Regions from separate parts of the Homo sapiens genome. Here all the other regions are linked to region 4. The links come from fine-mapping of genetic effects on gene expression. A gene starts in region 4. Each other region holds a variant in brackets. All regions are shown on one strand. Distances are from middle to middle.

Region 1 (5,107 bases), 120 kb before region 4:
CTCAAAGCTGTTATTAAAAAAAAATTGTCACAAGGCTCAGTTACTCAAGACTCAAAGCGTGAATATTCCTGAGTATAGGACCTATAAGGCAAGAAGTCTATGTGAATTTCTCTGCCTACTTTAATTTTATCCTAAGCAGTAACATATAACTTCACAGATTTGGTGGGCCACTTAGGTTTAGTGACGGTTAAGATAAATGCATACATATCAAATAAAAATATTGATTACCTAAAGTCCCTTCTTATGTCACACTTTAGGAAATTCTTGCTCTTGTCTAAATGTTTATGTCCCCCAAACTTCATATGTTGAAATCTAATCCCCAGTGTAATAGAATTAAGAGGTGAGGCCTTGAGGAGGTGCTAAGGTCATGAGGAAAGAGCCCTCATGAATGGATTACTTCCCTTATAAAAGAGGTCCAAGGGAGCTTATTTGCCACTTCTGCCATGTGAGAACACATAGAAGGCACCATCACTACGGAACAGGCCCTTGCCACCCAGTCTGCTGATGATCTTGGACTTTCCAGCCTCTGGAACTGTAAGAGATAAATTTCTGTTGTTTATAAGCTACCTAGTTTATGGTATTTTTGTTATAGCAGCCCAAACAGACTAAAACAATTCTGAATTATTGTATATAATTGCTAAGCTAGCGTGATTCATTTTGATTGTAATTCAGTCATTTATTTCAGCTTCCCTTTTAGGGTTACATACAGTGTTTTCGTTTTCTGTAAAAAATAGTGGAGATGGGATAGTAGAAAGATAAATGTATTGGGAAGGTTGTCATTAAATTATATATGATTTTTTTTTTTCTCTAAAGGATTTGAATGTTGAGAACTTTAAGGTTTTTTCTTAAAACTTCATTACATTAACTTCATATCCTTTTATTATGGCACTGAGATTTTCTCAGTAGGGAGCACATCGTAATATTCGTCTCATTAAACTATGTGTAGTGCCTGCTGAGAAGTAGATTGGGACTTGAAAATGTTTATCACCATAGGAAACAACAGAAAAGTATTTTAAAACACAGACGCTTCTCTAAGAATTCTGTTTGGGATAATACTACTCTGTTTCAGAATTCTTAAAAACAGGTTGGCATAATATTCTAATAACTGAATTAATTTTATTGGCCCTTATCTTTGTATTTAGTAAAGCAGGTGGTTGTCAATCATTTTTCCACTCAGTTACCTCCCTTTGTGGGTGTGTGGGTGGCCATAGGATGGAGAATGGGAATGAATGTGTAGTCTTTTTAAAGGGCCACTTAGTGATTCTTATACTACATCCTACCTCTACCCTAAATTGAAAATATTGCCATAGTGATCAAAAGGTATTAATGGAAGTGTAATATCCCCTTGGTCATTGGGCAGAAAAGTGGTTAAGCACAATTGGCGTTAGGCTGTTACATAGAGAAATTTGGGGTGATGTGTTTTTAGATGTGCCTGCTTTGCTGGGAAGATAGGACCTAAGAACAGAGCTATAAACACAGGAGTCAGAGGTGCCTGAGTTATAATAGCCCATTCCAGCTCAGGTTTATCTGAAATAGCAGGTCACTGTCTGGGGGGTATGTGAGTAATTTCAGTTAGCAGGTGCTGTACAAGTCCTCTATAACTTGTAAAGTATAAACCTTGATTGAAGATAGAATGAAGTTTGTAGAGGTGCATGACCTCATTAACAGACTCAACAACTGAGAGAGGGCACCTCTCCCCTAACTTTCAAGCAACCACCAGCTTCCCTTGCTGAGTGTATGTATGACCCAAATAGCTCTTCAGTCAGGTATCAGTTCTCCAGCCCAAGGTTTGTGTTAGGAAGCACAGGGCTCTTTTCCTGAGGTATTTCGATGCCTTTGGCTGTTCTTTAATCAAATCTCATCTAATACATCCTCCACAGTGCAACCAGAATTTTAATTTCTAAAATGCAAGTCAGATCAAGTTATTCCTCTACTTAAATCCCTTCACTGGTTCTACATTACCTACAAAGAAAGGAGTGTTTACTGAATTTGGCACAATGTTATAACTTGACTGTTAGATGATTCATTATATTGGGGTACCTTCCTTTAAGACAACTCAGTGTATTTAGAAATTCAAATTCCTTATGTGTTTTGCACAAAGCCTCTACCTATACAGCTTGTGTGATACTGGCCTCTTTCAGCTAGTGCTGCTTCCTCTCCTGCCTCTGGTGGTTGGTTGTTGATTCATTTGGTGAAAGTGGCTGCCAGCTTAAATCAGGAGTGGGAATCAGATCAGATACAACTCTGAAGGCCACAGAGAAGAGTTTGACTTTTTTCCTCCTGTACATGTGTGGTGGGAAACCATCGGCAGGCTGCAAGCAAGGGTTCTGTTATGATTTATGTTTTGAGATGACCACTTTGGCTACTGATTCAGGAATGAATTGTGGCACAGCATGAGGGGAAGCCGAAAGATCAGTTAGGAGACTACTACAATGGTCCTAGGCCTAATGCCAGATGGTGGTGGCTTGCATTAGGGTGGTTGTGATGGAAATAGAGGTAAGTGCAGACATCATGATGTATTTTGGAAGTAGAACTGTTAGGATCTAATAATGACTTTGTGGTAGGAGGAGGGGAAGAGTACATAATGGAGGAACTCTTAGGTAACATATTTGTATCTTTTCATTCTTTCACAGTACATTTAGGTGTGAAAGGAAGAAATGAAGAAAAAAATAGAATGTAGGTGTCTATATCCAAAATAGCTAATTGAAATTATTTTCAGTCTTTGAATTATGCTTGAGTTAGGTAACTAATTTAGGAATTACAGGAGAATGTGTGATTGGCAGAACATTAGGTCCATTCAAGGACTGACATAATAGAGATCACTATGTGAGAGACTGCAGTCGTACCTCAGGAGATGTTCAGGGAGTCTGCACCCCAGCTCAG[G/A]ACCTGAGTCTCATACATAGATACTGCTGTCTGGGAACCTGGGCCTCCAATGGCTGCTGACTCTGAAGGCTCTGGCTTTTCAAAGAGGATTTCTCACCAAATACAACCAGAGTCTACAGTGCTTATTTTCTGTTGCATAAAATAATCTTCCAGTCTTACCTGACTCACCTCATTAACTTTTATTAATTTCCAAGTTCTTATTCAAAAACCTGTATTTGAGTCCTGCGATCAGACAAGATAACACATTATAGCCCTCTTATTTTACCTCTTACTTTACCTCTCAAACCAATAGCAGGATATTCTTTTTTTTCTTTTTTGGCAAGATACTCTCTTTTTAAAAAAAAATTTTGTGGGTACATAGTACTCGTATATATTTATGGGGTATATGAGATGTTTTGATGCAATATGAAATAAGCATGTCAATGAAAATGGAGTATCTATTCTCTCAAGCATTTATCCTTTGAGTTACAAACAATCCAATTATAGTCTTTATTTTAAAATATACAATTAAGTTATTGACTATAGTTATCCTACTGTGCTATCAAATAGTAAGTCTTATTCATTTTTTTCTTTTGGTACCCATTAACCATCCCTCCTTCTTCCTAACACCCCACTACCCTCTCCAGCCTCTAGTAACCATCATTCTACCCTCTATGTCCATGAGTTCAATTGTTTTGATTTTTAGATCCCACAAATAAGTGAGAACACGTAGTGTTTTGTCTTTGTGTGCCTGGTTTATTTCACTTAACCTAATGATCTCCAGTTCCATCCATGTTGTTGTAGATGACTGAGTCTCATTCTTTTTTATGGCTGAATTGTATTCCATTGTGTACATGTACCACATTTTCTTTTTTTAAACTTTTATTTTAGGTTCAGGTGTACATGTGTGAGTTTGTTATGTAGGTAATCTCATGTCACAGGTGTTTGTTGTACAACTTACTTCATCACCCAGGTGTTAAGCCTAGTACCCAACAGTTATTTTTTCTGCTCCTTTCCCTCCTCCCACCCTCCACTCTCAGGTAGGCCCCAGCGTTCCCTTCTTTGTGTTCATGAGTTCTCATCATTTAGCTCCCATTTATAAGTGAAAACCTGCGATATTTGGTTTTCTTTTCCTGAGTTAGTTTGCAAGGATAGTAATAGCCTCCAGCTCTATCCATATTCTTGCAAAAGACATGATCTCTTTTTTTTTTTTTTTTGAGACGGAGTCTCGCTCTGTCGCCCAGGCCGGACTGCGGACTGCAGTGGCGCAATCTCGGCTCACTGCAAGCTCCGCTTCCCGGGTTCACGCCATTCTCCTGCCTCAACCTCCCGAGTAGCTGGGACTACAGCGCCCGCCACCGCGCCCGGCTAATTTTTTGTATTTTTAGTAGAGACGGGGTTTCACCTTGTTAGCCAGGATGGTCTCGATCTCCTGACCTCATGATCCACCCGCCTCAGCCTCCCAAAGTGCTGGGATTACAGGCGTGAGCCACCGCGCCCGGCCTATGATCTCATTTTTTTTTTATGGCTGCATAGTGTTCTGTGGTGTATATGTACCCTTTTTTTAAAAAAAAAACCCAATCTGTCATTAATGGGCACTTAAGCTGATTCCATGTCTTTGCTATTGTGAATAGTGCCGCAGTGAACATTCGTCTGCATGTGTCTTTATGGTGGAATGATTTATATTCCTCTGGGTATATACCCAGTAATGGGATTGCTGGGTCAAATGGTAGTTCTGTTTTTAGCTCTTTGAGGAATTGCCACACTGCTTTCCACAATGGTTGAACTAATTAACACTCCCACCAGCAATGTATAAGTGTTCCCTTTTCTCTGTAACCTCACTAGCATTTGTTGTTTTTTGACTTTTTAATAATTGCCATTCTGACTGGTGTGAGATGGTATCTCATTGTGGTTTTGACTTGCATTTCTCTCATGATCAGTGATATTGACCTTTCTTTCGTATGCTGGTTCACTGCATGTATGTCTTCTTTGGAAAAGTGTCTGTTCATGTCCTTTGTCCACTTTTTAATGGGGTTGTTTTTGTCCTGTACATTTAAGTTCCTTATAGATGCTGGATATTAGATCTTTGTCAGATGCATAGTTTGCAAGAATTTTCTCCCATTCTGTAGGTTGCTTGTTCACTCTAATGATAGTTTCTTTTGCTGTGCAGAAGCTCTTTAGCTTAATTAGATCCCACTTGTCAATTTTGGCTTTTGTCGTGATTGTTTTTGGTGTCCTTGTCATG
Region 2 (5,107 bases), 100 kb after region 4:
AACAGAACAGAGACCTCAGAAATAATCCCACACATCTACAACCATCTGATCTTTGACAAACCTGACAAAAACAAGCAATGGGGAAATTATTCCTCATGTAATAAATGGTGTTGGGAAAACTGGCTAGCCATATGCAGAAAACTGATACTGGACCCCTTCCTTACACCTTATACAAAAATTAAGATGGATTAAAGGCTTAAACGTAAGACCTAAAACCATAAAAACCCTAGAAGAAAACCTAGGTGATAGCATTCAGGACATAGGGATGGGCAAAGACTTCATGACTAAAACACCAAAAGCAATGGCAACAAAAGCCAGAATTGACAAATGGGATTTGATTAAACTAAAGAGCTTCTGCACAGCAAAAGAAACTATCATCAGAGTGAACAGGCAACCTACAGAATGTGAGAAAATTTTTGCAATCTGTCCATCTGCCAAAGGTCTAATATCCAGAATCTACAAAGAACTTAAACAAATTTATAAGAAAAAAAAAAACCACATCAAAAAGTGGGTGAAGGATATGAACAGGCACTTTTGGAATGAAGACATTTATATGGCCAACAAACGTGAAAAAAAGCTCATCATCAGTAGTCATTAGAGAAGTGCAAATCAAAACCACAATTAGGTACTATGTCACACCATTTAGAATGGTGATCATTAAACAGTCAGGAAACAGATGCTGGAGAGGATGTGGAGAAATAGGAACTGTTTTACACTGTTGGTGGGTGTGTAAATTAGTTCAACCATTGTGGAAGACAGTGTGGCGATTTCCTCAAGGATCTATAACCGACATACCATTTGACCCAGTAATCCCATTACTGGGTATACACCCAAAGGATTATGAATCATTCTACTATAAAGACACATACACACGTATGTTTATTGCAGCAGTGTTCACAATAGCAAAGACTTGGAAGTAACCCAAATGCCCATCAATGATAGACTGGATAAAGAAAATGTGGCACATATATACCACGGAATACTATGCAGCCATAAAGGATGAATTCGTGTCCTTTGCAGGGACATGAGTGAAGCTGGAAACCGTCATTCTCAGCAAACTAACACAGGAACAGAAAACCAAACACTGCATGTTCTCACTTATAAGTGGGAGTTGAACAATGAGAAAACATGGACACGGGGAGGGGAACATCACACACTGGGTGGGGGGCTAGGGGAGGGATAACATTAGGAGAAATACCTAATGTAGATGATGGGTTGATGGGTGCAGCACACCACCGTTTCACATGTATACCTATGTAACAAACCTGCACATTCTGCACATATATCCCAGAACTTAAGGTATAATAATAATTTTTAAAAAGTATAAGTCACGTTGTACAAGCAATCACCAGGACTCTTTCCGTCTTGCAAACTGAAACTCTATACCTGTTTAAAAAAACTCCCATTTCCTCCTCCTCCCAGCCCCTAGCAACCACCATTCTACTTTCCGTTTCTATGGATTTGACTACTCTAGGTATTTCACAGGTAAGTGGAATCATACAGTATTGATCTTTCGTAACTGGCTTATTTCACTTAGCATGATATAGTTAAGGTTCTTCCATGTTGTAGTATGTGTTTGCATTTTCTTTCTTTTTAAGACTGAACAATTTTCCATTGTGTGTATAGACCGCGTTTTCCTTATCCATTCCTTTATCTATGTACGCCTGGATTTTCTCCGCCTCTCAGCTGTTGTGTGTGTAGTGCTGCTGAGAACATGGGTGTGGGCTTCATTACTTAACAGTGGCTACCTTACCACCATCTAAAGCAGATTTCATGCTCAATCTAAGTGACTTTATACAACTGAGAAAATTTACTGGGCCTTTGTTCAAGCTTTTTTCAATTTTGCTTCTTACTGTCTGGGGTCTAGAAGCAATTTTTTTTCCCTAACACTTCAAAACCTCAAATTTCTGAGATGTCTTCATTGCTTTTCATTTCTCTTTGAAGATTGGTCAGTTTTTTCCTGTGCTCACCACGTGCCTGCAATGCTTTGCCGAAGGAAGTTTTTCTTGTTCGTGTCAGTCTGATGTGGATTGAGGGTGGTGTGCTCTGCTCCGACAATGATTCCGGGCCCAAGCTCCTTCTCTCATGTGGCTCTCTGACTCCAGGGCTTTATCCTCTTCTGTACTCCACTAGTAAAGAGAGAGAAAAAGATTGCACAGGAAGGCTTTTAGGGGCCAGACCTAAAAGTGGTTTATGTTCTTCTATCTTTACTTCATTGTCCAGACTTGGTATCATAGCCCTACTTCACTGTAATGGGAATAGGAAATACAATCTTGCTCTATTCCCAGGATGGAAAGAAAACAAGGTTAGGTGAACATATAGCACCTGGTGCCACAGGCTGGAGATAAATTTGGAAGTACCAGCATATAGGTGGTGATCAAAGCCATAAGTAAAGATGAGGATCATCC[C/T]GTAAAGGGAGTAATGGGAGACCTTCACAAAAACAAGGGCACTTTCTTAAGGGTCTTTACTGGTAAAAATAACTTTACAATGTTAGGTTACACAAGTTATTAGTAGAACAGTTACTACTGTGTTTGTAGGACGTTTAAATGTGTGCATTAAATAAATGTAAAAGTAGTTTTTTCAGAAATTGGAATGTCTTTACTTCTTGAAGTTTAATACAAAAGAAATATGTATCAGCATCCTTTTATGACAAAGCCTGTAAATGTAAAATAATGCTGAAGTTCAGAAATACTGAACTAAGTAAAGATTTATTTTTATTTGTCGTTTAAATTATGTACATTTATTAAGCATTTACTATGTACCAGGCAGTGTGAGGATTATAACAATAAATCACAATCTCTCAAGGAAGACCACATTTAGTAGGACAAAAATAGGCTGGGCAAGGTGGCTCACACTTGTAATCCCAGCCCTTTGGGAGGCCAAGGCGGGAGGATTCTTGGGGCCAGGAGTTCAAGACCAGCCTGGGCAACATAGCAAGATTCCATCTCCACAAAAAATTTTCTGAAAATCAGCTGGGCATGGTGATGTACACCTGTAATGCTAGCTACTTGATAGGCAGAGACAGAAGGATCACTTGAGCCCAGGAGTTTGAGGTTGTAGTGAGCTGTAATTGCTCCACTGCACTACAGCCTGGGGAACAGAGTGAGACCATGTCTTTTAAAAAAAATAAGTAAGGCAAATAAGTTGATGCCGAAAATCCCAGGCAGAATCGGCAGTCTGGAAGTAAAAGCGCATTGATTTTGGAGCCCAGCAGATCTAGGTTTGAATCTCAGCTCTGCTCCTCTCAGTGTAACCTTGGGGAAGTTAATATTCCTGAACTTCTAGTTTCCTTATTTCTAAGTTTGTGATAATAGCACCTACCCTTCAGGTTGCTGTGATTAGGGATGATCTTTGTAAACCTAATGCAGTGCTTGCTTGATATTAAAAATGTAGTTATTTTTATTAATATTGTTGAAGGTAGAGTTCATATGGGATAGAAAAATGAGTTACCTTACAGTCTATGAATTCATTCATTTAGTATTTAGTGAGCCACTACTACGCACTGTATACTTAGGATTAGATTGTATGTATGTATTTGTGTTTGTTTTCTAAAGCCCCATTTAGTTTTTTTAAAAAATGTTTGTATCACAGGTCTGTACCCACCAGGTTTACATATGGTCTTCCCCACTTTCAAATGCCCAGAGACCACCCTGTCTGTCCTGGCACTGTCTTCATCCTCCCTCTTTGCTACAGGGATCTGCCTGACTTATCTCTCATAATCTCCTCTTCCTCTGCCCACTCCCGTATTTTCCTTGCTCCTATTTCTGCTGACTTCACCTCAGACAGCCTTTTTTCTTTGCATACAAATTTTTGTTAGTTCTCCCCACCCCCAACTTTTTTTTTTTTTTTTTTTTTGAGATGGTCTCTTGCTTTGTGAGTGCAATGGCACAAGCTCGGCTCACTGCAGCCTCCACCGCCCAGGCTCAAGTGATTCTCCCAACTCAGCCTCCCAAGCAGCTGGAACCACAGGTGTGTACCACCGTGCCGGCTATTTTTTGTATTTTTAGTAGGGATGGGGTTTCACCATGTTGACTAGGCTGGTTTCAAACTCCTGAGCTCTGGCGATCCACCAGCATGATTCTTAAGCTTAAGCTTTTCTAATGGAAAAATTAATTCCCCCAGTTACCTTAGGCATAATTTACCACCTTCTTTCTGTGTTCATTTTTCTTCTCATACATTGGAAAACTCTCCAATTATATCCCCTATAGATCTCCAGGTGTCCCCACCGAAGTTTCTCCCTGCTGATACTAATGCTGATACTGACACCAGCACTCCTTGCACACTTACGATCTGGCAGGCACTCTGCTCCACCTCTTCTTTCCCCAGCAGTTCTGTTGTAAACTAATTGGCAGCAGAGATCAGATATGTACCTTTTTGGATTCTCAGTACAGCTTTTTGCACAAAGGAAATGGTCTATAAATATTGGTTGGTCAGAGAGAGGATGAATGAACAATTCATTTGACCTAGCATTAAAAATAATTTTATAAAAATTATGTCATATGCAATTGTATTTTGTTTCATTGCCAGTGTTGTGGACATTTTTAAATAAGAAATACAAATAGTCCGTCTTCAGTGTGGGTTAAATGTGCTTTTGTGGGTTACTTAGGAACCGCTTATTACATTGTTCTATGGCAAATTATATTCCAAGTTCTAAACAACTGTCTTTACAAAAGCCATTTTGACACATAAATTATAAGATGTGGACTGTCCAGAATTTTTCCTTGTCACTAATTTTTTAAAAGGGAATTTAGTTTTTGGTAAAAATGCCTTGTTTATCTTTCTCTTATTTATTTAATCAGTGTCTTCTTGTGCCACTTGCCACAAATAAAGATTCTCAAACATTTTCAGCCTCAGGGAATGAAGTAGCTGCTAGCTAGAAATAGATCAGGGATTAACAAATGTAATACATGTTGCTGATGTCATAGGGCTGTGACTTGGGAGGCAGACATCCCACTATAACTAAAAATGGGCATCAAGTGCACAGCATACAAATTTACAGATTCAAATTTTTACATTTGTTATTGCCAATGAATATGTCACATTATTTTGAGAACTAGCCCATCATTAATTAGTTTAAAAACAATATCTAAGTTATGTCACATCCATC
Region 3 (5,107 bases), 71 kb after region 4:
TGATGGTGCCCCATAAATTGCTTGAGCTACCTTCACTTTTTCTTTTCTTTTTTCTCCTCAGACTGGATGATTTCCAGTAACCTGTCTCAAGTTAACCAATCTATTCTTCTACTGGATCTTACCTACTCTTAAACCCCTCTCTTGAATTTTTCAGTTAAGTTATAGTACTCTTCAGATATATGATTTTCAATTGATAATTTTATGCTTTCTCTTTGTTGATGTTCTCATTTTTTTCTTGCATTGCTCTGTTGACCCTGGTGAGCATCTTTTTGACCATTATTTTGAATTTTCTCTCAGGTACATCACATATCTCCACTTCACTTCAGTTAGTTTCTAGAGATTTACCATATTCTTTTCTTTGGAATGTATTTCCTTGTTTCTTCATTTTCCATGACTCTCTATTTTGGTTTCTGTGTATTAGATAAGACAACTACCTCTCCCAGTCTTGTCAGACTTGTCTCATGTAGGAGAAAGTTCTCACTAATCTGTCTGGCCAAAGATTTTAAGGTGCCTCTCAAATATTCGAGTTCATCCAGACTGTTGTCTCTGTTTAGGGTTGCACTGTGGAGCTTAAGATGTGCCATGTTCTGCCAGTACCTCAAGACAGGGAAGTTAGGAGCCAGATTATCTTAGATGTAGCTGGAAAGATTGGGGTGTTGGCTATGTGTTTCAATTACTTCCATCTTCATGGTGAAGCTGAATGTGGGTGTCTATTTCCCACTCTTTCTGTGCTAAGCCAGGTAGAGGATCTATGGCAAATGTCTGAACTCATGTTTAGGCTGTGCCCTCAGATCCTGGGGAGATAGCTGCTGGATGTGGGCCCATTGTATGTCCACCTCTTTTTTTCTTGGATCTAGGACCACTCAAGAATGCAAAGTCCCATCAACTCCCAGAGCTAGTTTGTTAAGAAGACATTACCTTGGGTGGAAGTTATAGAAGTTATGGCACTTGCTGTGTAATCAGACTTTTTTCACGTAGAATGGGGGAGGCCTAGATTTATCATAGGGGTAAGCCAAAGGAAAGGATCATGAAGTGTCAAGCTCTGTTTTGGCTGCTGCAGAGCTATTTGTTTGCCCTGTTAGCTCCCCAGTGCAAGTCCATTAGAAGCCAGCTTGTCAAATGACCACTTGAAGTATGTTATAAGCCCCTTCTGGAGAGAAGATGGAAGCTACATGTTTTCACCCCTTTTTGGGACTTTTCCAAGGGGATGTAGCCGTTAGAAGTGTTTGCACACTTGTTCAAGACCACCCCTTTGTTCTGTGATCTAAGGAGACTCACATATGCCTACTATCTTCTGCTGTCAGAGCTAAGAGTAGTTTAGAGAGGGAATATTTAGGGAGGTGCTATAAAAGTTGGAGCACTTGATATGTGGCATAAACCCCATTTGAGGAGAAATAGCTGTTTTTAAAGCCCCTTCTCTGCACTGCCCCTATGGTATGACGTCCCTGAAATGCCTACATGCCCATATAAAACTGGCACTTTTTTCTGTGGTGCAGATAGACTCACATATACTTTGTTCCCTCTGGTTTCAGAGATAGGAAGTTTAGGACACAGTCCGTTGAGTGGGAGCTGTAAAATTGTGGGTGCTCAATATACAGTCAGACTCTCTTCCATGAGAGATTAATAAACCTGGAGTTACCTCTGGCATGAGCCAGGGGAGAAGACTCAAGAAGTGCCGGTCCACTTCTTAGGCTGTCAGCCAAGCTATATTTGTCTGCCTCTTTAACTTCCTGAAGCAAGTTCGTTAGAAGACAAGCAGGCATGTAGCCACCAGAAGAGTGTGTTATAGATTCCTTCCAGGCAGAAAGAAGGGGCTGCATATTTTAGGCCCCTTCTCTGCACTGCTCTTGGGGGATGAAGCCCCAGAAGTACTCGAGTGCCCATAGCAAACCACCACAATTTTATTGTGGTCTAGAGAGTCTTGGGTGTTTAATCCTCTTTGTTCTCAGAGCCGGTGAATTAAGAACCAGACCATGGGAAACCTTAGAGTTAGGGTTCTACATGTGAGTACAAATCCTCTTCTCCACAGGAAGAAGCTTGATATTAGGGAGTCCTTTCCAGATAATGTGGAGCAGTGTCTAAGGCAGGGTCCTATGCCTCAGCTTTTCCTTCCCATTTGATGTGGAAATTTTCTTAGTCGCCCAGTGTGTAGGAGTCTCTCAGCTGGTCCCTGACTTTCTCTCGGAGGGAACTGATTCGTGAATAGATGTTTATTTGGTGCTTTTGTGGGTGGAGGGAGAGTCAGGAGCTTCCTGTTCTGCCATGTTGCTGGCATCACTACCTCTTACCTCCTGCTTTTTAATGATTATTGTTGGAGTGATAAATCTTTCTCTGTCCTTTCACTTTTAATCTGTACGTGTCTTTATATTTAAAGTATGGGTTTTCAAATATTGTTTGTTCTCACTTACAAGTAGAAGCTAAGCTGTGAGGACGCAAAAGCATGAGAATGATATAATGGACTTTGGGGACTCGGGGAATGGTGGGAGTGGGGTGAG[G/C]GACAAAAGACTGCTTATTGGGTACAGTGTGTAGTGCTCAGATGATGGGGGCACCAAAATCTCAGAAATCAGCACTAAAGAACTCATCCACATAACCAAAATACCACCTGTACCCCAAAAACTATTGAAATAAAAAATAAAATGAAATATGGGTTTTGTGTAAACATCTTATAGTTGGGTCTTTTTTTTTTTTTAAATCAATTCTGACAATCTCTGTCTTAATTGATATATTTAGAACATTGATGTTTAAGGTGATTATTGATAGAGGTGGATTAATATTTAGTTAGTTTGTTTTCTGTTGTTATAACTAAATACCTAAGACTGGGTAGTTTATAAAAAAAAGGGATTTATTTCTTAGAGTGCTGGATGCTAGGAAGTACAATGTAGAGGTGGCACATTTGGTAAAGGCCTTCTTGCTGATGAGGACTCTCTGCAGAGTTCTGAGGTGGTAGAAGACATTACATGGCAAGGGGCCTGAGTGTGTTAACTCTTACTTCTCTTTTAAAGCCACTAATGCCCCATCCTCATGATCTCATCTAATCCTAATTACCTTTCAAAGGTCCCACCTCTCAAATACCATAGTTGGATTTCCCACCCTCTTAATACTGTTATGATGGGGATTAAGATTTAATATGAGCTTTAGGGCCAGGGGGACAAACATTCAGACCATAACATGTGCCATATTTGTTACTATTTTTATTTGTTGCCCTTGTTCTTTGTCCCTATTTTTGTCTTTGATGCTTTTTATGCCTTTTATGGTTTTGAGCAGTTTTTATGATTCCATTTTCTCTCCTCACTTAGCATATCAATTATATGCCTTTTTAAAAACTTTTTTTAAAGTGGTTGCCCTAGAGTTTGCATATGCATTTACAACTATTCTAAGTCCATTTTAAAATAACACTATACCTGTTCACAGGTAGTGTAAGTACCTCGTAATGACAGAATATTCCTAATTTCTCCTTGTCCTTAGATCTTTCATCTCATTCATTTCACTTATACATAAGCATAATTAAACATGTATATATACCTATGCATATACAATTAAATACGTTGTTTCTATTAATATTTTAGACAAACTGTTGTCTATTAGATCAATTAAGAATAAGAAAATAAAAGTTTTTATCTTTCAGGTTTTTTTTGTCTAATGCTCTACTTTTCTCTGTATAGATCTGAGTTTCTGACCTATGTCATTTTCCTTTTCTCTGAAGAACTTCTTTTAACATTCCTTGCAAGGCAGGTCTACTAGTAATAAATTTCTTCAATCTTTGAGAAAGTCTTTATTTCTCTTTTACTTTGAAAGGATAATTTTTCAGGGTACAAAATTCTGTGTTGGGATTTTTCTCTTTTAGCACTTTAAATATTTCACTTTACTGTCTTCTTGCTTGCATGGTTTCTGAGGAGATGTCAGATGTACTTCTTATGTTTGGTCCTGTATAGCAGGGTTCCCAACCATGGCCTGTTAGGAACCGGGCTGCACAGTAGGAGGTAAGCGGCAGGCAAGTAATCGAAGCTATGTCTCTATTTATAGCTGCTCCCCATTGCTCGCATTACCACCTGAGCTCTGCCTCCTGTCAGATCAGTGGCAGCATGAGACTCTCATAGGAGCATGAACCCTATGGTGAACTGTGCATGTGAGGGATCTAGGTTGTGCACTCCTTATGAGAATCTAATGCCTGATGATCTGTCACTGTCTCCCATCATCCCCAGATGGGACTGTCTAGGTGCAGGAAAATAAGGTCAGGGCTCCCACTGATTCTACATTAGGGTGAGTTGTATAATTATTTCATTATATGTTACAATTGATGGTGGCATCAGCCCATTTGGAGCAACTGCTGAGGGGATGCCAGCTGCAGTGTGGGAGGTGTGGCCAGGGCTGTACGCTCCATGGAGCTGGCAGGGGCCAGGAACAGGTGAGAGCCCTGCCTGCTACCAAGTTGGCTCCCCACACACCCAGGTGAAGCTACAGCCACCCAGCCATGGCTCTGGACCTAGGCATCCCTGCACTCTTGGGGGCCCAGGAAGCCCCCCTTCCCCTGAAGGCTTGGAAGTACCTTTTCCTGCTCCCTGGCCTTTCCCCACTCCTGACTGTCACTCCAATTTCAGAGCAAAGTTGAAGCCAAGCCTGAACACTCTTGTGACCTGGCCAGGGGTGCCACCCCACTGCCTTGGCTCCTTCTGAAACTGTGGGTGCTGACAAGCTCAGGGAGGGAGGATGTCGGGGGGCTGAAGGTAGCTCAGCATGGGCCTACAGGCCTCCCTCATCCTGAACAGCCTGGGCAACATGGATGGCATGTTGATGGTGGCAGGAAGCAGGCAGATTCATTCCTAGGCAGGAAGGGGTGGGTCACTGGTGAAGCCCCACCTTCAAGCCAGGGACAGCCTGAAGCCTGAGGGCTAGGCTGCCGGTTCTGGATGGAGTCCACAACCTGAAGTGAGAACTTATGGTGCTTTTTCCAGGTCCACCCGTGGACCAGTCAGCATGCACTTCCTCCCTTCTGAGCCCACAAAAACCCCAGACCCAGCCAGATGCACACACTCATCAGGTCAACCTGCCTGCAGAAAGGAGCTACCCACTATAGGTCTCCTCTCTGCTGAGTGCTGGACACTTGTCA
Region 4 (5,107 bases):
ACTAAAAGAAAAAAAAAGCAAAGTGATCATTTCCACACATGTAGAAAAGCCTTAATGAAATCCAACATTCATTCTTGATAAAAGTGCTCAAATCTTCCTACATCTTAATAAAGGGCATCTACAAAAAACCCTGGGCTAACATCCATATTTAAGAGTAAAAGACTGATAACTTTCCCTCTAAGATCAGAAGCAAAGAAAGGATGTCTGGTCTCATCACTTTTATCCAACACCGTACTCAAGCTTCTAGTCAGTGCAAAAAGACAAGAAAAAGAAATAAAAGGCCTCCAGAATAGAAAGGAAGTAAAACTGTCTTTATTCATAGATAACAAATCCTGAATATATAGAAAATCTAGCAAAATCCACAAGAAAAGCTGTTAGAACTCATAAGTGGTTTTTACAAAATTGCAAATACAAGATTAATGTTAAAAATTCAATTATACCAGCCTGGGCAACATAGTGAGACCCTATCTCTACAAAAAAATACCAAAATATTAGCCAGGTGTGGTGGCACAGACCTATAATTCCAATGTATTAGTCTGTTTTCACACTGCTATAAAAAACTACCTGAGACTGGGCAATTTATGACAAAAAGAGGTTTAATTGACTCACAGTTCTGCAGGCTTAATAGAAAGCATGACTAGGAGGCCTCGGGAAACTTATATTCATGGCAGATGGCAAAGGGGAAGCAAGCACGTCTTACCATAGCAGAGCGGGAGAGAGAGGGAGAATGAGTGAGGGGGAACTGCCAGAGAGAGAGAATGAGTGAGGGGGAAGTGCCAGACACTTTCAAAAAACCTGATCTCATGAGAACTCACTATCATGAGAAGAGCAAGGGGGAAGTTCGCCCCATGATTCAATCACCTCCCACCAGACTCCTGGGGATTACAATTTAAGGTGAGATTTGGGTGGGGACACACAGCCAAACCATATCACCCAGCTACTTAGGGGGCTGAGGTAGGAGGATTGCTTGAACCTGGCAGACAGAGGTTGCAGTGGGCCATGATCACACCACTGCACTCCAGCCTGAGCAACAGAGCAAGAACCTGTAACAACAACAACAAAACCCCCAATCATATTTTTACACACTATCTGACATAGTTTGAGTATTTCTCCCTTCCAAATCTCATCTTAAAATCTGATCCCAAGTGTGGGGCCTAGTTGGGGGTGTCTGGGTCACAGGGGCAGATCCTTCAGGAAAACTTAGTGCTGCCATTGCATAATGAGTTCTCATTCTGTTAGTTGCCTCCAGAGCTGATTGTTAAAAAGAGCCTGACCACTACCTCCCCTTTCTCTTGCTTCTCTTCTGGCCATGTGATCTGCACAGGCAGCCTCCCCTTCACTGAGTGGAAGCAGCCTGAAGCCCTCACCAGAAGCAGCCTGCAGAAGTGTGAGCCAAATAAACCTCTTTTATTTGTAAATTATTCAGTCTCAGGCATTCCTTTTTAGCAACACAGACTAAGACACTATCAAAGAACAACTGAAAATTTAAAATGTCATTTACATAATATCAAGAAGTATATTTTTCCCCCATCCTTAGATTTATGGATAAATCTGACATAGGGTGATATGGTTTGGCTGTGTCCCTGCCCAAACCTCATCTTGAACTGTAGTTACCATAATCCCCAGGTGTTGTGGGAGGGACCCGGTGGGAGGTAACTGAATCATGGGGGTGGTTATTCCCATGCTGTTCTCTGATAGTGAGTGAGGTATCACAAGATCTGATGGTTTTCTAAGGGGCTTTTCCCTCCTTGCTCCTCACTTCTCCTTCCTGCAGCCCTGTGAAGAAGGAGGTTTGCTCCCGCTTCTGCCATGATTTTAAGTTTCCTGAAGTCTCCCCAGCCATGCTGAACTGTAAGTCAATTAAACGTCTTTCCTTTATAAATTACTCAGTCCCAGGTATGTCTTTATTAGCACTGTGAAAATGGACTATATAAGACTAGACCTGACAAAAGATCAAAACATTTGCTGAGTGAAATAACACCTAAATAAATGAAGAGGCTTACTTTAAGGGTCATTACTAAATATTGTTAACATGTAAATTATTCTTACATGGATCTATAGACGAAATGTAACCAATCACAATCCCAACTTTTTAAAGTGACAAGCTGATTTTAACATTCATATGAAAACCCAAGGGACTAGATGAGCCAGAACATTTTTGAAAAATAACAAAAAATTGGAGGCCAAACACGATCTGATTTTAAGACTCTTACGAATCTACAGGAATCAAGACAATGTGGTATTTTTGTAGAGAGAAATATAATAAATTGTCGGAACAGAATAGAAAGTCTAAGAATAGACCCACAACTGATGCTTTAGGGACAACTGATTTTAAACATAGGTGCAAAAGCTATTCAGTGAGAAAAAGAAAGCTCTCTAAACAAATGACACTATTCACATACAAAAAAATGACCTAAGATCCATACTTTGCACCACAGACAAAAATTAGCTCTAATTGGATCACAGACCTCAATATAAAACCTAAAATTCTAAAACTTGTGTCAGAAAACACAGAAGAGATCCTCTGTGGCCTTGGGTTAGGCAAATTCCTTGGACAGACAAAAAACAAACCCTAAGATCCGATCTGAGCCGCCGCACAACCCTGCTCTGGCCACTTAGCCTGAGGTCACTGCTCGGGTCCCGCCCCTCTCCCCGCCCGGGACCCTCCTGGCTCCGCCCCAATCCGCCCGCTCCGCTCCACCCCGCCCCGCTGCCTCGTCTCCATCCGGAAGAGCCGCCGGGGCAGGGAAGTTGAGGCGGTGCGCGGCCCGGCGTCGGTCGAGAGCGCAGGCCCGGCAGAGCCGCAGGCGCTAGGCCGCCCGACACAGCCCGCGCGTCCCCGCGGCCGGTGGCGCCTCGAGCGGCCACGTGCACGCGCGCACTCCGCCTCACCAGCCTTCTTGCGCCGGAGACGAACCCGCTGCCTGGCTGGAGCTCTCTGGGCCCTTCGGCCTCGGGAGCAACGCGTTCCCGGCGACTTCTGACACAGCCAGTAAGTGATAGCCGCCTCCTCCTTTCGCGGTTATGTTTTTCTCCAGTTCGTCCCAAGTCTCGTTCCCGTCTCATTACTTCAAAAACTATTCAACTCCGGGACCGGACAGGCACGGGAGCTGCCCGGGAGAAGAGCCCCAGAAGTCTCAGAGACTGCCAAGGTGTTGTGGGGCAGGGGCTGCGTGCAAAGACCCTGTGAATTAGAAAGTTTGGAAAGCATGCCTCCAAAACCGAGCGACTCCACGTTTGCCAGGCGCCCCTGGGGCAGCCGAGCGGCCCGGAGGCGCGAAATGGCGCGCCCCCGCAGTGAGAGGGGCGGAGGGAGTGGGGCGGGGCCGAGGGCGCGCGTCCCGCCAGCCCGCGCGGAGGGGGCGGGGCTCCCGGCAGGTGCAGGCGGGCGGGGCGGGGCTGCCGCGATTCCCGGAGACAGCTGGGGGATGCCAGTGCAGTTAGGCACTCTCCTGTCTTCTTTTCGACGCTTCGCTGTGGTCAAGAGGACAAAGTAAAGCAAATGATTTTATTTTGACCCCAAATATTCAATAAGAAAAGGAAAGAGAACTTGAAAGTTGTGAAATGACCCTTCTCAAAACAAAAAGTCCCTCCAGTGTCTATCTGGGTGGGTAGTAGGTACGTTTATTGATTTAGCAAACTGCTGATAACACAGTTGATTAGTCAGTTTTGCATAGATGTTGAAAGGGAATGAATAACGATGGTCCATATAACCATAGAAATGCTAGCCTAACTAGGCAAAATTTAATCTGACCTTAATTTGAACGTTGAATTCTGCTGCTGCCCTTTTCCTGCCTTGTGTGGAGCTGTTTTTCAAATTGCTAAATTTGTGGCTCTAAACTTAATATGCTTTAATAGAATCATAGTGATTCTCTTGTAGCCACTGTTGGGAGTCCAGATTTTTTTTTTTTTTTTTTTGGGCAAAGTCCACATTGTGGAGATATTCCTTCCCAAGTGCTTTTTCTGCTTTACACTTGGCTGAATTTATATTGCTTAACCAAAAACAAATTACCGTGGAGGCCGTAATTTATTTCCACTCATTGTTTTGGATATACATTTACTCATTCTTACTCTCACTCTGGCCTCCTATAGTGGTCAGGATTCTTGACCTAACTGCTATATGTACTTCTTAAACGTTTCACACCTTGCGGAATAGTAGGTTCTCAGAGAAAGCAAAATATAGCAAATAGCGTGTATAACACGTACTTAGGATGATAAACTGTGAACTTTATAGCAGTCTCCTTTAATATTCGTATTTGTAGAGTCCAGTACAATAAATGTTGGACAAATGAAGTAAGTCAAATTTAAGTACACCTCTTCTCCAGTCCTCAATCTCTTTCCAAACGAAATAAGTGTTTCTCTCTTTTTTTTTTTTTTTGAGGCGGAGTCTCGCTCTGTGCCCGGGCTGGAGTGCAGTGGCGTGGTCTCGGCTCACTGCAAGCTCCGCCTCCCGGGTTCACGCCATTCTCCTGCCTCAGCCTCCTGAGTAGCTGGGACTTCAGGCACCTGCCACCACGCCCAGCTAATTTTTTTTGTATTTTTTTTTAGTAGAGAACGGGATTTCACCGTGTTAGCCAGGATGGTCTCGATCTCCTGACCTCGTGATCCACCTGCCTCGGCCTCCCAAAGTGCTGGGATTACAGGCGTGAGCCACTGCGCCCGGCCCCAAATAAGTGTTTCTTATTTGGACAGCTGGTTTCTAACTGTCCAGTGCTACTTCTGAGATCGTCACCTCATTTAAATTTAACCTCCCTCTCCTTTGACTCCTATTCATATTGCATTTTTGACCACTGGTAGTGCACTGTTTCGTTTTATTTGCCCCTTGGATTTCTGAGGACATAGAGAACCTTTTACTATACTTTTCATTTGCCAGCATAGTGCCTTGTACATGATAGATATTAGGAAATGGACATTGAATTGGGTTTATACATATGTAATTTGTTATCCGTCTGTATACATGAAACTAGAATGGGGATAGGTGCTTTTTATCTGTAGATACATACTTTTTAATAGAGTGCCAGGGGAATGAGATAAAGTAATGGTATATGCTGTATTTATTTTCAATAATACTTTTTTATTATTTGAAGACTCAGTGTTTTTTCACCTT
Region 5 (5,107 bases), 170 kb after region 4:
GAGGCACACATGAGGCACATCAGGAGGGCAAGTACTTTCTAAAGCATTTCATTCAACTACCTTGGTTCATGCCTGCTCCTAGTCCCATCCCCGTCATCGAGACAGGACACAGTCCTCCAGTCAGCTCAGTCTTTCATCACTGATTCTTGGCACAGAGAGGGTCTTATCGCTGGTTCCTTCAGATGCCACAAACGTCCTCTCTAGCCTCCTTTCCCCCTAACACTATCATTCTAGTCTAGCGCCTCACCCCATACCTGGGCTCTTTAGTAAGTTCCAATAATATGTGCGGAGTGCCTACCATGTACTATGTTGAACACAGAGGGAGGATGCAAACTGAGTCAGTTAGGACCCCAGAGCAGGGAAGCTTATCTAGACTTACAAATAACCAAGTAGATAAGGTGTGGGAGGCAGAACAATGGCCCCTAAAGGATGTCCACATCTTAGTTCCCAGAACCTGTGACTATGTTTCTTTGCATAGCAAAAGCAACTTTGCAGATGCAATTAAATCAAGGAATTTGAGATGATGAGATTTTTCCTGAATTATCTGCATGGGCCTAATATATTCACAAGGGTCTTTACAGAGGAAAGGCAGAAGGGCCCAAGTCAGAGAAGGAGATGTGATGACAGAGACAGAGGTCGACGTGATAAGGGGACATAAACCAAGGGATAGAGGCGGCCTCTAGAAACTAGAAAAGACAGAGAAACAGATTGTCCCTGAAGTCTTCACAAGGAACCAGACTGTTGCCCCATTGTGGACTTCTGACCTCCAGAACTATAACATAAATAGTGTTGATTTAAGCTACTGAATTTGTGGTAATTTGGTTGTTTTTTTGTTTTAAAATTTCAGCTTTAATTTTAGATATGGGGGGTACCAGTGTAGGACTGTTACATGGGGATATTGGACCCAGGTAATGAGCATAGCACCCAACAGTAGTTTTTCAATCCACGCCCCTCTCCCTCCCTCGTGCCTCTAATAGTCCACAGTGTCTATTGTTCCCATGTTTATGTCCATGTGTGCTCAATGTTTCACTCCCAGTTACAAGTGAGGACATGTAGTATTTGGTTTTCTGTTCCTATGTTAATTTGCTTAGGATAATGGCCTCCAGCTCCATCCACGTTCCTGCAAAGGACATCATTTCATTCTTTTTTCCATCTGCATAGTATTTCATGGTGTATATGTACCGCATTTTCTTTATCCAATCCACTATTGATGGGCACCTAGTTGATTCCATGCCTTTTTTATTGTGAATAGAACAGCAATGAATATACGAGTTCATGTGTCTTTTTGGTACAATGATCTATATTCCTTTGGGTATACACAGTAATGGGATTGCTAGGTCAAATGGTATCTCTGTTTTAAGTTCTTTAAGAAATCTCCAAGCTGCTTTCTGTAGTGGCTGAACTAATTTACATTCCCACCAACAGTGAATAAGCCTTCTCTTTTCTCCGCAGCCTTGCTAGTATATGTTCTTTTTTTTGACTTATTAATAAAAGCCATTCTGACTGGTGTGAGATGGTATCTCATTGTGTCATTGTGGTTTTGATTTGCATTTTTTGATGATGAGTGACAATGAGCATTTTTTCATATGTTTGTTGGCTGCTTGTATGTCTTCTTTTGAGAAGTGTCTGTTTATGCCCTTTGCCGAATTTTATGGGAGATTTGTTTTTTACTTGTTGATTTGTTTAAGTTCCTTATAGATTCTGGACTAATACATAGAATAAAAGACAGAGAAAGGAAAACTTACAATGGCAGAGGCCAACCAATACCATTTGGATGAAAAAAGATATGGGAGCACAGGAGAAGGTATGATCCATTCTGCCTGGGATATGGGAAACTTCCAGTGTAAATAGTTCTCCCAGACATCTCTCTACTCCAACCTGGTTACTAACCTGCCTACTGGAGTCTCTACAAGGATATAAAAAAGACTATTCAACCTCAATACTTTTGAAGCTTGTGAATTTTACCCCCAAATCTGTTCTTCCTTTAGTGTTTCTTCAGTGAGTGACACCACCACAGATCCCTCTGCATGGCCAGAAACAGGAACTCTCCATGCACGGGAAGCTGTGTTCTATGAACCAGCATTTGTCAAAATACTGGGCACCTGACTGCAGCGCAAAACAAATTCATTGTCATTGCTCAACAGATTTCTTTCTCTTGAGTGTAATCATTTATTTTAAACTGGAATTCATTCTAAAAGGGGCTAGACATTATTTCCAGATTCCAAGTGTAATTTAAAAAATTCGAAAGATAGGAGTGTCTGAGTAAACTGCAAGAGAAAGAGGCCTATTTTAGATGTGAAACCCTAAAATAATGGGATCACATTTTAGGAGGTATAAAAGCCATTTAAAACCATAATAGAACACCCTTGATTTTTGCTATTCAGAGCAAAAGATCCAAAATCAAAGATAAAAATCCATGCTAATTCAGAACACATTACATTTTTACCCCTTATTACTACTAGATAGTATACTATACTATATACTACAGCATTATACCACAGTGGTATGCTATATTATACTACAATATTCAGCCTCCAAATACAATGCAGACCATATATTTAATCAAGGCTTTATAGGTTTTGAAGAATGTTTAGCTTCCCCTTTGGAAGCATCTAGCTGTGACTCAATAAAGCCTCACAGTGATGCTTGCTTGAGTTACTGTTCTCATAGTTAGTACCTGAGCCGAATGCTGGGGCACGATGCTTATTACATATTGCTTCTTTTTATTGGCCACAAGTCATTTCCCTAAGGAAAATTCATGAGCTTTGTCAATTAAGACTTCACTAAGTGAGATCCCACTGCAAAAGTAATTAAGATAAAACAATTTCTGGAAAGAAATCCAAGTTTTCAGTGAATATTGTTTTCCAGCATTAACACTTTTCTACATAATTCCTTTAGCACAGAGATCCAAAAAGGTTTTGTAATTTTCACTTTGAAGTCTATGTAAGAAATGTTACTTTTAAGACACTGGAGAAGGCTGGGCACGGTGGCTCACGCCTGTAATCCCAGCACTTTGGGAGGCCGA[C/G]GCGGGCGGATCACGAGGTTAGGAGATCGAGAACACGGTGAAACCCCGTCTCTACTAAAAATACAAAAAGTTAGCCGGGCGCAGTGGCAGGCACCTGTAGTCCCAGCTACTCCTGAGGCTGAGGCAGGAGAATGGCGTGAACCCGGGAGGCGGAGCTTGCAGTGAGCCGAGATGGCGCCACTGCACTCCAGCCTGGGTGACAGAGCAAGACTCCATCTCAAAAAAAAAAAAAAAAAAAAAAAGACACTGGAGAAATCCTTCCTGAAGAAGGAAAAAATTAATTATATCCAATCTTTCTCTGGCCCTAGATTTAGAGGGAAGGCTGTTTTGATTGCCTATACAACCAGCGCTCTCGCCCATCTCCTTTCTTTTTAAAAACTTGAGTTACCTTGTAGTTTCCTATATGCCTTGATATCTGAACTTGGGAAAGGTTTGTGGTTTTGAAACACACACCCTTTCTGAGAATAGGGCGAAAATATTACAATCTTGTAACCTATCTTTGAAAATTAAGGATTGTGAGAAATAGAGAATTGTTAGGAGTGATACTTATATAAACCTTGAATCCAGGGTTGTGCACATCGGTGCACTTTGTAAATGATGGTAACCAGCATCAAAAAGGAAAGTGGCTCTCTGAGTTATTTTGATACCAATGGAAGCTACCCTGGAAGTCTCTAATGCATTGGGGTTATTCTGTTTGCTATTTCTCACTTGATTACAAAGAGTGTTTGTAATAAAGAAAATATCAAAACTAAACATTTATCAATATTTGTGGATTATTTAGGGTTTGTGCCTATGAGTAGAATTTCTGGGTCTTAAGCTTTTTTTTTAACTTTACTAGACAACTGTTATCTCTAATCAGGAAGGCTTTTGGCTGCAGGTTACAGAATAGCTAATAGTTGTTTAGGCAATAAAGATTTAATTACCTAACATTGTCAACAAAGGATCCAGCCTCTTTCCCTCCTTCCATTCTGCTACCTTTAATGTGTTGACTTTGGTCCTCTTGCTTGCCACCTCATGATCACAATATGTTTTTCAAAATTCCAGGCATCACAGTCTCAGTCCAGTGTCCCAAACAAAAGAAAAGATGTATGAAAAAGGAGTTTCCAAGACACATGCACTCGTATGTTCATCGCAGCACTATTCACAGTAGCAAAGGCATAGAATCAGCCTAGGTGCCCATCAACAATGGATTGGATAAAGAAAATGTGGCACATATACACATGGAATGCTATGCAGCCATAAAAAGAATGAAATTGGCCAGGCGCGGTGTCTCACGCCTGTAATCCCAGCACTTTGGGAGGCCCAGGCGGGTGGATCACAAGGTCAAGAGATCGAGACCATCCTGGCCAACATGGTGAAACCTTGTCTCTACTAAAAATACAAAAATTAGCCAGGTGTAGTGGCAGGCGCCTGTAATCCCAGCTACTTGGGAGGCTGAGGCAGGAGAATTGCTTGAACCCGGGAAGCGGAGGTTGCAGTGAGCCGAGATTGCACCATTGCACTCCAGCCTGGGCAAAAAGAGTGAAATTCCGTCTCAAAAACAAAAAAAGAATGAAATCATGTCCTATGCAGCAACATAGATGCAACAGGAGCCTGATATCCTAAGTGAATTCATACAGGAACAGAAAACCAAATACCACATGTTCTAACTCACAAGTGGGAGCTATGAGTACACATGGACATAAAGATGAGAACAACAGACACTGGGGACTACTAGAGGCTGGATGGAGGGAGGGGACAAGGGCTGAAAACTGCCCTTTGAGTACCACGCTCAGTACCTTGGTGATGGGATCATTTGTACCCCAAACCTCAACATCTTGCAGTATACCTATGTAACAAACCTGCAGATGTACCTCTGAATCTAAAATAAAAGTTGAAATTATTTAAAAAAAAAAAGGAGGGGGGCGGAATGAGTTTTCTTTCTTTTCAGGAGGGAAAACCCTTCCTATGCTTCAAGGATAGGCCACTTCTGACCTAGGATAAGGATGTGGCTGAAGAATAGAGAGGTTCCCTCCACCTCTCCCTCGGAGCCTTTCATGTCTTAACAACCAGAAGTTCTACTCAGATTTCCCTTAATGCCTC

The links. PIP is the estimated chance that this variant, and not a neighbour inherited with it, causes the effect. A credible set is the group of variants that fine-mapping cannot tell apart.
Region 1: its variant is the best candidate, but not a certain one, in a credible set for the expression of MCM9 in lung (TOPMed, PIP 0.71).
Region 2: its variant is the best candidate, but not a certain one, in a credible set for the expression of MCM9 in whole blood (INTERVAL, PIP 0.81).
Region 3: its variant is the best candidate, but not a certain one, in a credible set for the expression of MCM9 in whole blood (TOPMed, PIP 0.65).
Region 5: its variant is the best candidate, but not a certain one, in a credible set for the expression of MCM9 in subcutaneous fat (GTEx, PIP 0.59).

Annotation. Positions count from the first base shown.
Region 1 is chr6:119,049,784-119,054,890 of GRCh38, reverse strand. All of the region lies in intron 1 of FAM184A (family with sequence similarity 184 member A), which reads left to right. Among named protein-coding and RNA genes, the nearest start is that of MIR548B, 17 kb to the left of the region's middle. The variant G/A (reference allele first, on the strand shown) is at 2,884.
Region 2 is chr6:118,830,089-118,835,195 of GRCh38, reverse strand. All of the region lies in intron 9 of MCM9 (minichromosome maintenance 9 homologous recombination repair factor), which reads left to right. Among named protein-coding and RNA genes, the nearest start is that of ASF1A, 62 kb to the left of the region's middle. The variant C/T (reference allele first, on the strand shown) is at 2,409.
Region 3 is chr6:118,861,590-118,866,696 of GRCh38, reverse strand. All of the region lies in intron 8 of MCM9 (minichromosome maintenance 9 homologous recombination repair factor), which reads left to right. Among named protein-coding and RNA genes, the nearest start is that of ASF1A, 30 kb to the left of the region's middle. The variant G/C (reference allele first, on the strand shown) is at 2,496.
Region 4 is chr6:118,932,776-118,937,882 of GRCh38, reverse strand. It overlaps MCM9 (minichromosome maintenance 9 homologous recombination repair factor), which reads left to right and starts at 2,724. Exons shown (of 14, transcript NM_017696.3): 1 at 2,724-2,992. It overlaps LOC124901389 (a long non-coding RNA gene), which reads right to left and starts at 2,968. Exons shown (of 2, transcript XR_007059729.1): 1 at 2,893-2,968. RefSeq lists silencers at 2,546-2,975, 3,226-3,475.
Region 5 is chr6:118,761,922-118,767,028 of GRCh38, reverse strand. No RefSeq gene overlaps it. Among named protein-coding and RNA genes, the nearest start is that of CEP85L, 110 kb to the right of the region's middle. The variant C/G (reference allele first, on the strand shown) is at 3,026.